Homo sapiens: one gene and its partners. The protein of the gene in region 3 purifies or fractionates together with the protein of the main gene of each other region. This does not show direct contact. Each region holds a gene or a part of one and is shown on either strand. Other genes may lie near its edges.

What was found.
Region 1: the proteins of ZMAT4 (region 3) and MARF1 purify together in Homo sapiens (co-immunoprecipitation; one large-scale study listed by IntAct). This does not show direct contact.
Region 2: the proteins of ZMAT4 (region 3) and CRYBG1 purify together in Homo sapiens (affinity purification with mass spectrometry; one large-scale study listed by BioGRID and IntAct). This does not show direct contact.
Region 4: the proteins of ZMAT4 (region 3) and SUPV3L1 purify together in Homo sapiens (affinity purification with mass spectrometry; one large-scale study listed by BioGRID and IntAct). This does not show direct contact.

What each region holds. Positions count from the first base shown.
Region 1 is NC_000016.10:15,601,634-15,605,224, forward strand, and holds part of MARF1 (meiosis regulator and mRNA stability factor 1), read right to left. Parts: intron 2,766-3,591; coding exon 2,535-2,765; intron 571-2,534; coding exon 358-570; intron 1-357.
Region 2 is NC_000006.12:106,517,703-106,521,293, reverse strand, and holds part of CRYBG1 (beta/gamma crystallin domain-containing protein 1), read right to left. Parts: intron 2,164-3,591; coding exon 1-2,163. UniProt on the Homo sapiens protein: May function as suppressor of malignant melanoma. It may exert its effects through interactions with the cytoskeleton.
Region 3 is NC_000008.11:40,530,769-40,534,359, forward strand, and holds part of ZMAT4 (zinc finger matrin-type protein 4), read right to left. Parts: intron 1,471-3,591; coding exon 1,455-1,470; 3' UTR 1-1,454.
Region 4 is NC_000010.11:69,178,856-69,183,033, reverse strand, and holds the start of SUPV3L1 (ATP-dependent RNA helicase SUPV3L1, mitochondrial), read right to left. Parts: upstream 2,801-4,178; 5' UTR 2,743-2,800; coding exon 2,472-2,742; intron 515-2,471; exon of another isoform or gene 380-514; intron 1-379. UniProt on the Homo sapiens protein: Major helicase player in mitochondrial RNA metabolism. Component of the mitochondrial degradosome (mtEXO) complex, that degrades 3' overhang double-stranded RNA with a 3'-to-5' directionality in an ATP-dependent manner.

The DNA of each region.
Region 1 (3,591 bases), on a different chromosome or scaffold from region 3:
AGGCTCCCCAGGCTTGGGAAGTGGGCCCTGACACGGCCCTCCTCAGCGCGCCCACTGCCCTGACCGCCCTGACTAGTTGCCTGCTTGGGGGTCTTGACTCTCCCATTAACCAACACCTTTCTAGAGTTACAGCCTGAAACTTACTCACCTGGCATATAGGGATTTAATAAAGGTTTACAGAAAGAATCAAGGAGAAATGCTAAAATCATTTACTTTAGACCAACAGTATGTTTTGAAAGGATCAATTCAAAATGCCTGCCGTTCCATTATTCTGGCAGCATTTTATTTTTCTGTTCAGGACAGTTAGCCTGTGGCTGTTCAGAAGATGCTCTCCCGGAAGCTGAGAAAAATGCCCACCTGTGGAATTGCTCCCAAGAGCTCCTCCACGCTGCTGTGGCCGTAGGTCTTGGGCTGCAGAGTTTCTCCGACATACTTGGTATAGGCCATGGAAAACTCATGAAGGAAAATCTGCTGGTAGTGGTAAGTATGAAGTAAAGACCGCACATTCTTTGCAAACAAATACAGACTTGTGAGCTTCACACATTCTTCCATCTTATCATTAGTGAAAACCTGGTTAAAAAGAAAACGCAGCATTAGAAATATTAGTGACTGGCCCTGCCCCGTGGAAAGTGAAGGCCTCCCACTGAGGGAAAAGGCCCAGAGTTGAAGACGAAGACAAAGAAGAAAAAGAAGGCAACGAAGATGAGAAGATGAAGATGAAGAAGGAGACAAAGATGACGAAGAAGAAGGAGACGACAAAGATAAAGAAGACAACAACAAAGAAGATGAAGACAAAGACGACGAGACAAAAACGAAGATAAAGACGACAAAGATGAAGACAAAGAACAAGAAGACGAAGACAAGACGAAGACGACGATGAAGAAGACGAAGACGACGATAAAGAAGACGAAGACGACGAATTGGACAAAGACAAAGATGAAGAAGATGAAGATGACAAAAAAGACAAAGAAGAAGAAAGGAGGAGGAGGAAGGAAAGAAGGAAGAGGAGAAAGAAAAGGAGGAGGGATATATTCAAGGATTTCCTCCAAGAGAAGGCTATAGCCTCCAGCAAACTTCAGTTCTATTTGCAAGTCGAAGGCTGCAGCGGTCTGAAGAGACAGTGTGTGAGTAGGGAAGAAATCGGGGGAGGCAAACTGTGTTGGCAAATCACGGTACACACAGTGAACACTGGGGCCATTAAACTGCACCTCCAAACCAGTTTTCCAAGAAACACTGTGATAAGAGGATGACACTAGCATTCTTTAAAAACACATCAAAAGCAACAAGAAACAAACACAAAACCCTTGTGTATGCAGGGTAAGGAAGCAGATTTCTTTACCACAAACCTTTTCAAAGTGTTTAACATGCTATGGAATCGCCAAGAGAAAGGATATTCCCAATCTTAGCTGGACAGGGAAAGTCCTTTGTCCTGAAATATGCATTAACACCTGTCCAGAACTGGTGTTCTTAGGATAGATATTAACAGAGTTTAGAAAATGCTGGATGTATATCCTTTCATTATTTAATGATGTGTCCCACAGTTAGATGATAATGGCATATCATTCTTTTAAATTGCTGGAGCTCATTTGTTAATATCTTATTTAGGATCATTTTAAGGGACTATCTTATGTTTTTGGTATTAAATTTATTTTGGCTTCGTAAAAATAAATGGTAAGCTTTCCTTTTTTCTTTTTCAGCAGCCTAGAACAGTATTTTTTTTCTTGGGGATGGGTTCTTGCTATGTTGCCCAGGCTGGCCTCAAACTCCTGGGCTCAAGTGATTCTCTAGCCTCAGCCTTCTTAGTAGCTGGGATTATAGACGTGTACCACCTTGCCGGGCCCCAGAATGGTTTTTTAAAAGGTAGATTTATCTGTTCTTTTAGGGTTGGTTGAAATTCAATTGTTATCTCACTTGGTCCTGATGCCTTTTTCACTGGTATATTTCAGTGATCTTTTATAGTCTCTTTTATGGTAATTGGTCTAATTTTTAACTTCTTGAGTGAATTTTGGTAACTTATTTTTTCCAGGATTTCATTTATTTACTCTAGGTTTTTATATCTGTCGCCCGAGAATTGCATGCAGTATTCTCTTAAGATTCTCTCAATCTTGGAGCGCCATTCTTGAAAGGCTGCCTGGGGGACTGGCTGGCCAACCTTCCTTTCTGCCCTCACCTTACTCATCTCTCTCTTCAAGCCACCACATAAACCATCTCATTCAGAAAGATAAAACAGTAGCGAAATCCATCCTGGAATGGGACAAACACACCCCAGAGCCAGGATCAGGAGACCAGGCTTTCATCCTAGAACGGGACAAACACACCCCAGTGCCAGGATGAGGAGACCAGGCTTTCACTGGCTTCTGCCACCCATTTAGGCAGGGCTGCTTCACTGCCTGAGGTCTCGGCGTGTTCATCCATGAAATGGTCTCTCGGGTCCCTTCCAGCTCTACACACTCTAATCTAGACCATCAGGTAATCCGGAAATGCCCAATCGATAGTTTTCAATGATAGTTCTAAAGAGCCATTAACGTGCCTACCTCAACCAAGTATGGCAGGCTCTTCAGCAGTTCGGTCAAGGTCATGAATCCATATTCACAGGGGTTAAGGGGAGTGTTGTGGGTACTTTCGTAATGTCTCTTGAGCTCCTCAACAGAAAGATGGGTGGTTCCTTCCCAAGACATCAACAATACCAGCAACTGGGCAGTGAGAGATCGCAGAGACTTTCGGTTGATCAGCTGAATCTGTCTGCCAGATTCTATATCGGCAACCTGGGGAAAACGAGAATTCACACTTTTCAGAGCTCAAGAGAGACACCCTAGGTTATACCCAACTCAGCTCACTTCATTTTGGTTAATGAGACCAACAGATGAAAAATCTCTAATTTTTTTCTCTTACACTGAAATAAAGCAAGTGGGTTTGTTTTTAGCGTCTTTGGGACACCAGACCAACATGGAAGCAGAAACTGTCCTCCCCCTGCCGGTCCATAACTGAAAACTCTCAACAAGATAATAATGGGGGAGGAAATTGCATCATTCTCTTTATTTTTCATTCATTCTTTCCAAACCCCACTATAAGAAGGACACAGACTGGCCAGCTGATGGCCAGTGGTCCAAGCTTGTGAAGTGTGGGTTGCTGTGCTCGAAGGGGGGTAGGGATGGGGAGGCTAGACTCTAAGCAACACTCACATGGCTTCTGTGCAGACCCGACTTGCCCATATGCGTCCCCAGGGCGGGCTGGGGAGGTGAGAGAGGGCCTACTCTGATTACAAGGCAAGCTGCATTTTTCTAGTCTGCTATTACTCACCACAAAGCTGGTATTTTCATCTGACTAGTAACTGTCCACTCCTCAATTATTTCAGATTCTCAAGGAGATAAAGGGTTTAAGCGGTTAAATGCGCTGAGAGGGAAACCTTACAAAAAAGACAGAGATTGTCACTTGGGGACCAAACACCATGTGAAGAAACACGCATCTGGTGACTGAGCCAGCAGGCTGTGGGTGGCGAGGGTGAGGCTGTGGCGTGAGCCTTTCCTGGCACAAAAACAGGCAGAGCTTTGGCACACACACGGCTCCGGCACTGCTCTCACAAACCAATGC
Region 2 (3,591 bases), on a different chromosome or scaffold from region 3:
AGTTTTGACAATTCAGAAAATTTAGTTTCTGGCAAGTGTAGGTTGCTTCGTGAATCCAGATCTTCTTTGGTTTTCTCTTTTTGCGGGTATTTTTCCATGTGGCTTGGACTTTTCAAACTGGAGTGTGATGTACTTGACGAGTTGAAATTGAAGACCTTTAAGGAGTTGTCGGGCAGAAGATTTGACTGTTCTTTGTTCAAACCACAGGGCGGGGCACCCTCAGTCGTGGGCTGTGACACTGAAGACTGAGATAGGGAACCGTTCTGAGAAGTACTGAAAGCCGTGGTCATAGTGTTGACTGATGTCACAGAAGGAGAAAAGATTTTGTCTTGTGGTAAAGAAGATAACAAGCTTGAGAAAAGTGCACTTTTTTCTAGTCTCGATCTCTTAATGCCACCATTTGTGACGTCCCTGTTCTCTTTGTCATTGATTTCCGGCATCACCAGAGGCTCACTGTTCCCATTAGTGTTGGTGTGCAGGGACTTGAAGAGGACGCTCTGTTCAGCAGATGCACGTTTGGGTCTCAGTTTGGATTTTGTGTCAAGGTTCTGCATCAAATGTAAAGCCGGTGACATTTCTGGCTGACTTTCCTTCTTCTTCCCCAAACCAAAGGTAAACACTTTGGGATCAAACACCTTTTCTAAATGGTCTTCGTGAATAGGAGGCATGGCAAAGTGAGGAGCAGGAGAGTTTGGCATCCTGGCCTTCTTTCTTTTCATGGGCATACAAACTGCGCTATCCATCTGTTTTATAATTTCAGTGAATTTTTCCATATCAGAAGAAGAATCAAATACACTATCATCACTACCAGCAGAAATGTTCAAAAGGCTGGCAGGGCTATCCTGGCCATTTGTAACAGTCTGATCTGGCCTTTGAGGAGTGGCTAAGTGATTTCCGCTGCTGGGAGAGTTGGTGGGACTGGATTCAGCCATCAGGGGTGTTCTGCTGCCCTGACTTTGAGCCTGAATAGGCAGAGTTTTCTCTGATGCTGGCGGTATGACTTGTGGGCCAGATTTTGCCGCGAGCTCTGCTGTGCAATGAGAGTGTTCATTGCCCAGTACTTCCTCTTGTGGGGGAGCACAACTTGCAACGGAAACCACTTCAGGTTCATTACTGTGACAAGTTGGCAACTGCACTTCTCTAACTTCAGAGCTCTCTGGGATGACCTGGGAGCTCACATCCTGGGTGCTCTCCACGGGGAGCACGAAGGACCTGACCTGGACGAGGACTCTGGATGGACACTCACTTCCCACAGCTTCTGGACTACGCTCTGTGGACAAAGGAGGGGTTGTTTCTCCTCCAAGTTCTAAAAGTGGCATTTTCTCATTGTTCTGACGAGACACAGGCAAAACACATCCTTTATGGTTTTCTGACACTTTTAGATCAGTGCATGGGAAACTGCTTATGGGTGATTGAACACATGTGTCTTTGGGAACATCCCCAGGAGCGGGTGCAGACAGTGAAAGAGAAGGCCCAGGAGATGACTCAGCAGGGGACTGTGAGTCAGAAAATGTATGCTGTGGCTTTGGCATGGCCGTTGGAGGTAAATCTTTGGTATCCACAGTGGTGGGGATGTCTTGTGCTGTATCGGTTACATTTTCAAGTACAAGGCTTTTGCTGTCTGCAGCCTCTGAGTCCTCCTTCTCTAAGAGCTTATGATCCTTGACAGGAATCAGAGCAGAAGCCACTGGTTCTGAAAGGCAGCCAGCATCTGTTTGTACATCTGCTTTATCATCTTGGTTAGGCTGAGGACCAAGAGCTTGATTCTCAGAAGAGTCTCCATTCATTCCTCTGGTTGCTGGCAGAATCTCTTCTTCCGAGACGGTAACTTTGGTTTCTATAGCAGTTTCCTTAACCAGCACACCATTCTGGGGACTGTTTGGCATTACTTTCTTTTCAGGTTGCTCCATTTCTTTGGCTTTTTTGGCTAAATTCAGCTTTGCCCTCCCAACAAACGTTTTACTAGAGGCAGGAGTATTCCTTTGGCCTCGAATGTCAGTGTGTCTTGGGCTACTGTTTGTCCGTTTGTTTTCAAATAAGGAGATTTTGGTGGCAGTGTTGCCTTTGTGAACTGGCTGGCTAAATGGATTGTGCTCATTTCCCAAACTGTCAAGATTCTTAGGGGTTTTAAGATTTAGTTCCACATGTTTGGGCTTGGCAGGGCTGTGAGGAAAAAGCAGGAAGATAAAGTTATTGACCTAGTTTTAAAAAGTGAACACACAAACCAATTAATTATAAAACTATGAAAAGCCAACATCTCCCTGATATATAACATTTGGAGTGTGGTGTGTGTGTGTGTGTATGTGTGTGTGTGTGTGCGCACACATGTGTTTTTAAGACAAGGTCTTGCTCTGTCGCCAAGACTGGAGTACAGCAGTGTGATCATAGATTGCTGCAGCCTCGAACTCCTGGGCTCAGGCAATCCTCCTGCTTCAGCCTCCCAGGTAGCTGGGACTACAGGCACATATCACACACCCAACTAATTTTTTTATTTTTATTTTTTTGTAGAATGGGGTCTATGTCACCCAGGCTGGTCTCAAACTCCTGGCTTCAAGCAATCCTCCCATCTTGGCCTCCCCAAGTGCTGGGATTACAGGCATGAGCCACCATTCTCTGCCACATTTGTTTTTTAATGAAACTATTTTTAAATAGTCCTAAGTACACTACCAACTATTTTTAATGGGTGTTTTGCTTGCATATGAGGGATCGGAAGATTATATAGCCAAGAAACTCTAGGGATGAGGGATGAACTAATTTATTGAGTACGTAGCATGTATGCACAGTGCTTGGCACTAGAGTTGGAAGACATCTTAAGGCCTGAACAACATTAGAAGAAATTTAAATATTTAATGCATTCTCATGCTCCAACATCAATTATGTATTTTTATTTTAGCATAACTTTTTAAATATTATCTCAAAAGGATAGATTTTAAAAATTCATCTACTATTGACCGCTTTGGATATTTTATTCATCTCATCCTTCCCCCATAAGATTTTCTCTGATTATAAGTGTGTTCACTATAGCAACTTTGGATAATATTTAAAAATCACTGATAATCCTACCAGTCAGACAATATCCCTGTTAACATTTTTATATGTTTCTAATCTTTTTATATGCATAATTAAATATTTTGAATAGAATTGAGATTATTCTGTTCATATAATTTGATATCTTGCTTTTTCAAGAAATAAAATGACTTAACCTTATAGTTAACATTTTTCAGATTACCAAAAAATTTGTTTGAAAAGTTGTCTTAATGCTGCATGGAAGTCCATCATATGGATGTACCGTCATTTACTTATCAATTATGCAACTGTTGGTTTTGTCACCACTTCTTGGGCAAGAGAGTCTCCCCTCTCTCCGTCACATTTCTTGGGTATAATTACCCCCAGTGGAAATAATAAGTCTTTGAATGTACACAGTGCTTTCTTTCAGAGAAACAAAATGTGCTCTGTTTGGCATTCTCTGGCTCTGGTCCTGGCTTTTATGCTAATTATCTGTGTGAACCTGGTCAAGTTACTTTACCTCTCTGGACTCTAACTTCTTCATCTTTAAAAAAAATGAGATGGTTTAGAACAGAGTTGTTTTTA
Region 3 (3,591 bases):
AGGGTGTGGCTCGTGGGGCTTCGTCTCTCTGCAGGCACAGAAACTGGCAGACCTGGTCCCTCCTGAGCGGGCCCTGCTCAAGGGAATGGTGCCAGATTTTGAACACAGGTAAACAGGCTCCTTCATAACAACACTGTGCATTTCTGTGTCATTTTGTTTATTGCTCACTGAGTTGTTGCCACCTCAGCTCTTGGTGGAAAACAGTGGGTGTCCAGAAATTGCTGACACAAGAAGATGGATTGCCTATGGTCGTTAGGGACACAGGGCAGCCCCAGCCAGATCCCAGCTGGTCCATGCAGGGCATCGTCAGTAGAAGCTCAACGTCCCACTTCGTAACCAGGCTACAAGACACCAAGTCCGGTCACCATGGAAAAGAATTAAACCTAGAGAAAGAGCCTCATGATCTGCACTCAGACGCTCCCCATCAGAAAGGAACTGTTTTCTTTATCGGTCATGCTCTTTCCAGAGTGACTGAGTCTTGGCTCAGCAGTAGGACTTCAGTGAGAAACAGAAGAAATAGGGGACCCCGCCTAGCCCAAGGCCGCCATTTCTTCAGAATTTTCTCACTTCTTTCCAAACGATCAGTATCCCCCAATTAAAGCCCACAGTTCAGGCCAAACATCATAAAAAAAAATACTTGTTTATTTCCATCTCATTCTGGGGTTTATAATTCTTCTTTTGGATGCTTTTGGGGAAAAAAATTCACCAAGGTCAAGGGCTGTGAAGACGTTTTTGCCTAAGAAGATCATCATGCAGGCAGACTAATTCTTTTCCTAAGCTATTATTTGGCAACTTGCAAGGAGGACTTGGCTTAACCTTGAGAAACTGTTCTTTGAATGATCAGGAAAAAAGATGAGAATTCTTCCTTTATTTACTCCCTTCGTCTTCATTGTTCAGATGGTAAACCTGGCTCCTGTGCTTGGAGAACGGAGAAAACGACTGGTATTTATTTGTCCATTTGGTATTTTCCACTAATAGTGATCTGTTCCAGTTCTGTGCATGTCACCCTCAACTGTGTCCAACATGATGAGAAAAGAATGTATATTTCTGGATAGAGGTGGTTTACATCACACTCATTGAGGATTTAACAGAATAATTATGCTCTGAGGAAATCTAGAATAAATTGGAAATTTAAATTTTTCCACTTTCAGTTTGAATAATGCTCCAACTGTTTGCTATAGGATTATAATTTAGAACATGTGCTAAATATGTTATCAGGAAAGAATTTAAAAATCCATCCAAATATCATAACTTACCCCAAAATTAAAAAAAGGAAAAAGAAAAAAGAAACCTCATTCATTTCCAAAAATCAAGATCAGTCGTATGTGAATCTGTGAATCCTTATAAGAAATGTTTATTGTTCAAGAAAGAAGCCTCCTCTGGTGGTTGATAAGCAATTCTCCACGGCAGAGAAATGCTAATGTTTTGTTCTTATGTCTTGATTGATGCTTTCACTACTTATTCTTCAGGCTATAAGACAGAAGGAAACACAGTGTTACCTTCTTTCATAATTACAAATTCCAACACCTCTTTCTCCCCCCCACCCCCTGTCTCTCTTCTACTTCTCATATTACCTTAACCATCAAATTCAAATGCATCTGAATTTGTAAAGTTAATCTTTCAGGTTCTAAATAACCTGTATATATAAAATATCTCCATTACTAATGCCATCTCCACATACGTACAAGAAAATGTATAGCTCTACATTGTCAATCCAGACACTAAATTCATTCCAAATGTTTTTAAATAAAAATAATGAATTGATTTTTATTTATGGCATGCTGCATACACCCATCTTTAAGTTTCAGGTATAACTACATGCAGAACCCTCTTGTTGAAAGTGGAGAGCAACATTACAGTGGCTAAATTTCAAATTAATATAAGCCTCGTTGTCCACTCATTCAGAATTTTCTCTGTTAGAAGAATAGAAAAAAAAAATTGTTTCTGGGCCAGGTGCAGTGGCTCATGCCTGTAATCCCAACACTTTGGGAGGTAGAGGTGGGCAGATCACGAGGTCAGGATATCAAGACTATCCTGGCCAACATGGTGAAACCCCGTCTCTACTAAAAATACAAAAATTAGCTGGGCATGGTAGCATGCCTGTAGTCCCAGCTACTCAGGAGGCTGAAGCAGGAGAATCGCTTGAACCTGATGCAGTGAGCCGAGATCGTGCCACTGCACTCCAGCCTGGCAACAGAGGGAGACTCCATGTCAAAAAAAAAAAAAAAATTCTTTCTGGCCTTACTTGCAAAAAGTATTGATTTAATCAAATTGAGAGCCAATTTTTGAAGGATTTTTAGTTTTGTTTTTTTCTTTATGACAACAAGATACTACCTCTTACAACATGCCTACTACGAGTCATGAATTTTACATTTACTTTACATTTTAATTTAATCCACAGACCACTTTTACTATGTGTGCCATTTCCACCCCTTTTAAAGGTGAGAACACTGAGGTTTCACTTGGCTAAATTAATGGCACAAGATCAAACAGCTGTTAAGCAGTGGAACTTGAACCCTGGAAAAACTCATAAGCAGGAGGTGAGAGAGCTTGTTGACATCTTCTGCCGGGGATTTCTCGCATGCTGCTGAAGAAGTGCTCCAGCTGAAAGGAAGCTGCTGGAAAAGCATCTTCTAGTGGTGGCTGTTTCCCTTAAAGAATATTTTAGAGGGAAGGGTGGCAAAAGTGTTAGAGCAGGTTAGACTCTTTTCACAGGTTTTCCCATCTTCCTTCGCTAAGGTCCAAATGTCTCACTGGCAGTCTGGTAAATGAAAATTCAAAAGCTACAAAAGAAAATTCTATCACTCACCTAGAAACACAGAGCATATGTTGAAATTTCATTTTCCAAAAACAGTGCTGTCATAGAATATTCTTAGGATCTGAATAAGAATTTGAACATTGTTGGTATAATGTAGACTAAAAAAATTGAGACTATATGCATATTTTTAAAAATAGCTTTGAAATGTTTGAAATTTTGCCTTAGCATGACCCTGGTAGCTATAGCCACTTTTTAGTAGTTGTTATAAAAATTAAAATCCTGTTTTAGAATCTCATACTCTGCTACCATCCGGTCATGACCTAAAGAAATTCAACAGTCCTTGTCATCTTCAAAAATTAATGTGACATAAGGGTTGAAAGTTCTCACTGAGCAAATAAGTATAATTTCATTTTTATAAACTGCAAAGATGAACACTTTTGAGATTAAAAAGAGTTTGAAGGACAGCATCTTCACGTAACAGTAAGAAGACCAAATATTCACAGCTAAACAGTCTTTAGTCATGATTACATAGTTAGAGAAAATCAGATGAAAGGGTTTTTTTTTTAAACTTATAGTAAAAGTGGTATATTAAGAACTTAATCCCATAATGAGGAAAAATATCACATTCTTCCTTTTTATAGTCATTGTAATTATTCAGATCCTTTCTGAATACATAGAAATAATGACAAATTAAAATGTCTTTCAGTTCCCTATAGCTTTTGTAATTATTCATCCATTACTGTTATTTTTGCTGGAAAGGCTACTTCATATTTTAGTCAGCATCCCATTTGATACAAAAGAACACGGAAAATTTCACTGCTATTAATAAACAC
Region 4 (4,178 bases), on a different chromosome or scaffold from region 3:
TAGGCAGCGAGATATATAGGTCCAGGGTGAAGGAGAGAGGTCCAGGGTAGAGACAAAGATCTGAGAGGAATACTGAATTAGTGAGGGGAGAGAGAGAATGAGACACCCCATAGACAGCACAGAATAAGGCAGCAAGGTGACGCAGGACAAAGCCTTTAAGTACCTCAACTTTTTGGGTTATGAGTAGGCAAAAGAGATTGAGAAGTGACAGCTTCTTGTCCTGATTGCTAAGCTAAGTGGAAATCTGACACCTTAACCACATGGCTATATCAGAGTGTAGTAATGCACCATCTTCTGTAGCCCCTCCTGCCATGCTGAAAAATCATTCTAGTAAATTCAACATCTGGACCAATCCCAGTCAAAGGAGATGAAAAATCACCTGGCACACAGACCCAATGAAGTATCTAAGGATTCTCCACCAGAAGAAAATCTAGTGCTGACAAACCCATGTCTTTATTCTATCTTCTTACAGGAAGCAGCAAAGACATTTACATTTTCAGGTGAATTGGAATAGCTGCAGAAAATAAGAATTTATCAATATTTGAATACAATAAGGCAAATTATCTCATCCAAATTACCTTATGCCTTCAAATAATATAAAATAATGGAAAATTGTTCTTTAATGGGTAAACTATTGTTTGAGTTTCAACTCTGCAAGATGAAAAAGTTCTCATCTATTTCGCGACAATGTCAATATACTTAACGCTAGTGAACTATGTGCTTAAAAACAATTAAGACTGGCTGGGTGCAGTGGCTCAGGTCTGTAATCTCAGGGCTTTGGGAGGCCATGGCAGGAGGATCCCTGGAGCCCAGAAGTTTGAGACCAGCCTGGGCAACATAGCAAGACCCCATCTCTACAAAAAATTAAAAAATTATCCAGGCATGGTGATGCACGCCTGTATTCCTAGCTACTTAGAAGGCTGAGCCAGGAGGATTGCTTGAGTCTGGGAGTTGGAGGTTACAGTGAGCTATGATCATACCACTATACTCCAGCTTGGGTAACAGAGCAAGACCCTGTCTCTAAAAAAAAAAAAGTAAAGAAAAAAAAACTAAAAAAAAGCTTAAAAGAGTAAATTTTATGTATTTTTATAATTTAAAAATAAATAATAGTATAATTACATTATTAAAATAACACATTCTCTGCTATGGTTTGAATGTCTTCTCCAAGACTCATATTGAAATTTAATTGCTATTTTAACAGTTGAGAGGTGGAACCTTTAAGAGGTGATTAGGACATGAGGAGTTTGCCTTTGTGAGTGGATTAATGCCATTATCACAGGAGTCAGTTATCACAGGAAAAAAGGATAAGTTCAGCCCCCTTTCTCTGTCTCACAGGCTCATTTGCCTTTCCACCTTCCACCATGTGATGATGCAGCCAAAGGCCCTCATCAGATCCCGGCTCAGAACCATGAGTCAAATACACCTCTATTGTTTATAAATTACTCAGTCTCAGGTATTATGTTATAACAGCAGAAAATAAAGACAGTCTCCCAGCACCAAGTAAAGTGAAAGGCCTTGCTTAACACTGGAAGAATATGTCAAAGAATAACATATACTGTGAGTTCCATCACATGTTTAGTGAAAGTACTGTACTTCTGCTCTGAAAAACATATTGTAGTCTATATTTTAGATTTACAATAGGAGGCACCAATGTCGCTTGTTGAAGTGAGACATTTCTCCTCCTATTCCTGGAGACAATTCTGGATAGCATTTCCTCAATCTCCCAGTTTCATATGGTCAGAGGAAACTCCCTTACCTCCCTAATCATCCCGAAACTCACCTTGAAAACATTCACATGCCTCTCTGTCAACGAATCCATCCAAACTTAAGTTTTGCTGAGCAAAGCCCGCTGCCACTAACTGATGCTACCTCTTCTTTTCTCTCTGGAGCCGGGGACACCCTACCTTGTTCTAGACCTTGTCATGTTCTACCTTGTATTACAGTTCACTTTCCATACACGTGTCCTCCCCCACGATACCGTTACGTTTCTTAAGAGGGGATCTGGATCTGAGTCTGGTTCCTCTTGGCAACCACCACACAGCCTAACAGCGTGGTATGAGTCGGCGCCTCCTCAATGATAAAGAATCCTAAAAGGAGTCTCCGCTGGCTTTTCACTGCCACATCCCATTCGGGGGTGGGAGAGAAACAAAGAATGCAAGAAAGAGCGGGCGTCCACCTAACAACTCAAAAAAGTCAAATCTTCCCAACACATGAGTGTCTAAACCATTCAGAGAGCAGGGCAGTAAAAGGGAAAAGGCCGCTTCTGGGACGAGGCGTTAAGAATTAATCAGATACAGTCCTAAGCCGTTTGAGGGGCTCACACACCAGCGAAGGAGGCAGACACTGAGAGGCACGATGACAACACTCGATGGGACCTCGGATCCCCAGGGGAAGGGGATGTAGCTTCCTCCCAACCAGCCTCGGCCCAGCAGACACCACCCTCTGCCGCCCTCAGTAGTTCCCGCACTCACTCTTGTCCAGAGGCCGGGTTAGCTCGGCCCCGACGTCGCCGTCGGCGCTGGGGCCCTGAGGTTTCACAGTCAGGGGCACGAACAAGGACGTGTTTGGTATTTTGGAGCCACCGGAGGCAGAGGAGGAGGCGGTGGCAAGGACAGAAACTTGCCCCAGAACCCCGGGAAAGGGCCCAAAGTGGGGACGAAGGGCAGAGCAGATGGCTGCCCGGTGGCCAGCCTGGCGCCCCGCCGGGAGCCGAGCCCACAATAGGGCACGGGAGAAGGACATCGAGGCCGCAGGTTCTACACTGTCTGGCGCAGCCGCGGACACGGCGGCGGACAGTGACGCGCACCTCCAGCGCCTGCTGTCCAGAAAGACCCAGGCCGAGCAGGTAAGCTGCCCGGGAAAACGCCTGACCGTTAAGGAAAACGCCGTGCCGTGAGGGTGTTCTTTCAGGGAAAAAGAAGATTAGCAGGCAAAACCACTAGAGATAATTCTCGTTCTCTTTCTCTGTTTTGTTGGTGATTGGGACCACCTTTCCCTAAAGAAGGGAAAATAATCAGGCATCTTTGGGATGTCATACATGAGCGGAGGGGGCCTGCTAGTCGTGTCACGTGATGCAAACTAGTACTTTGGTAAGCAAGTGTCCAGAAGCACGTGGGTGAGCAGTGAGAGAATGGGTGGTGGAGCAGCAACTGCGAATGCTCAGGGTACGAGTATGTCTTGCGGACTCAAACACTAAATAGCATTTCCCAAAAGTTTCTTGCATTGTTAACCGTCATTTCCTGATATGATAACGTTAGCGATAATAACTTGATATGCCCCTCAGAAATGTTGCTAAGAAATATTGTTGCACTATTAAACCCCTTGTATTACGTAAGTACTTTTGCTTTAATGTGAGCAGTTTGCGTACATCATCCTAGCAGCTATGACCACATAGTTGTGACCACATGGCAAAAATACGTGCTCTGTACCCCAGCCATAGTTTCGTTCCATTGCATTTGTTGAATACCGTGTTCTCATGTGAGGCTGCAACATGTTAAATTCACAAGTTTAACCCGGGCGTGGTGGTTCACGCCTGTAATCGCAGCACTTAGGGAGGGCGAGGCCGGTGGATCATCTGAGGTCAGGAGTTCGAGACCAGCCTGGCAAACATGGTGAAATCCCCTCTCTACTAAAAATACAAGAATCAGCCGGGCGTGGTGGTGCACACCTGTAATCCCAATTACTAGGGAGGCGGAGGCAGGAGAATCGTTTGAACCTGGGTGCCAGAGGTTGCAGTGAGCCGAGATCGGGCCACTGCTCTCCAGCCTGGGCAACAGAGTGAGACTCCGTCTAAAAAAAAAAAAAATTCACAAGTTTAGCATCTCCATCCACATCTCTTTATACTTACATCATTAAGATCTTACAACTTGAAGGAACGTGTTATGTAATATACAATACTGTATGTCTAATAGGATTCCAGTAACAATTTGCCACGTGCCTTTGATTCACAAAATAATTTTTAAACATCAGGGATACAAGGAGACAGTCCTTTGCTTTCAAAGGTTCTGATCTGGTTTTGGTGGTAAGAACAGTACACGTTAAATAATGCACTTATTACTCTAATAGACTAATGGCAGTTCAAAGAAAGGAGCAATTTGAGAGTGGTAAGGAGATTTCTGCCAGACTTAAAAGTAAAACATAGAGAAGCGGTAAGTAAATTCTAGTCAGTGGAAACGATG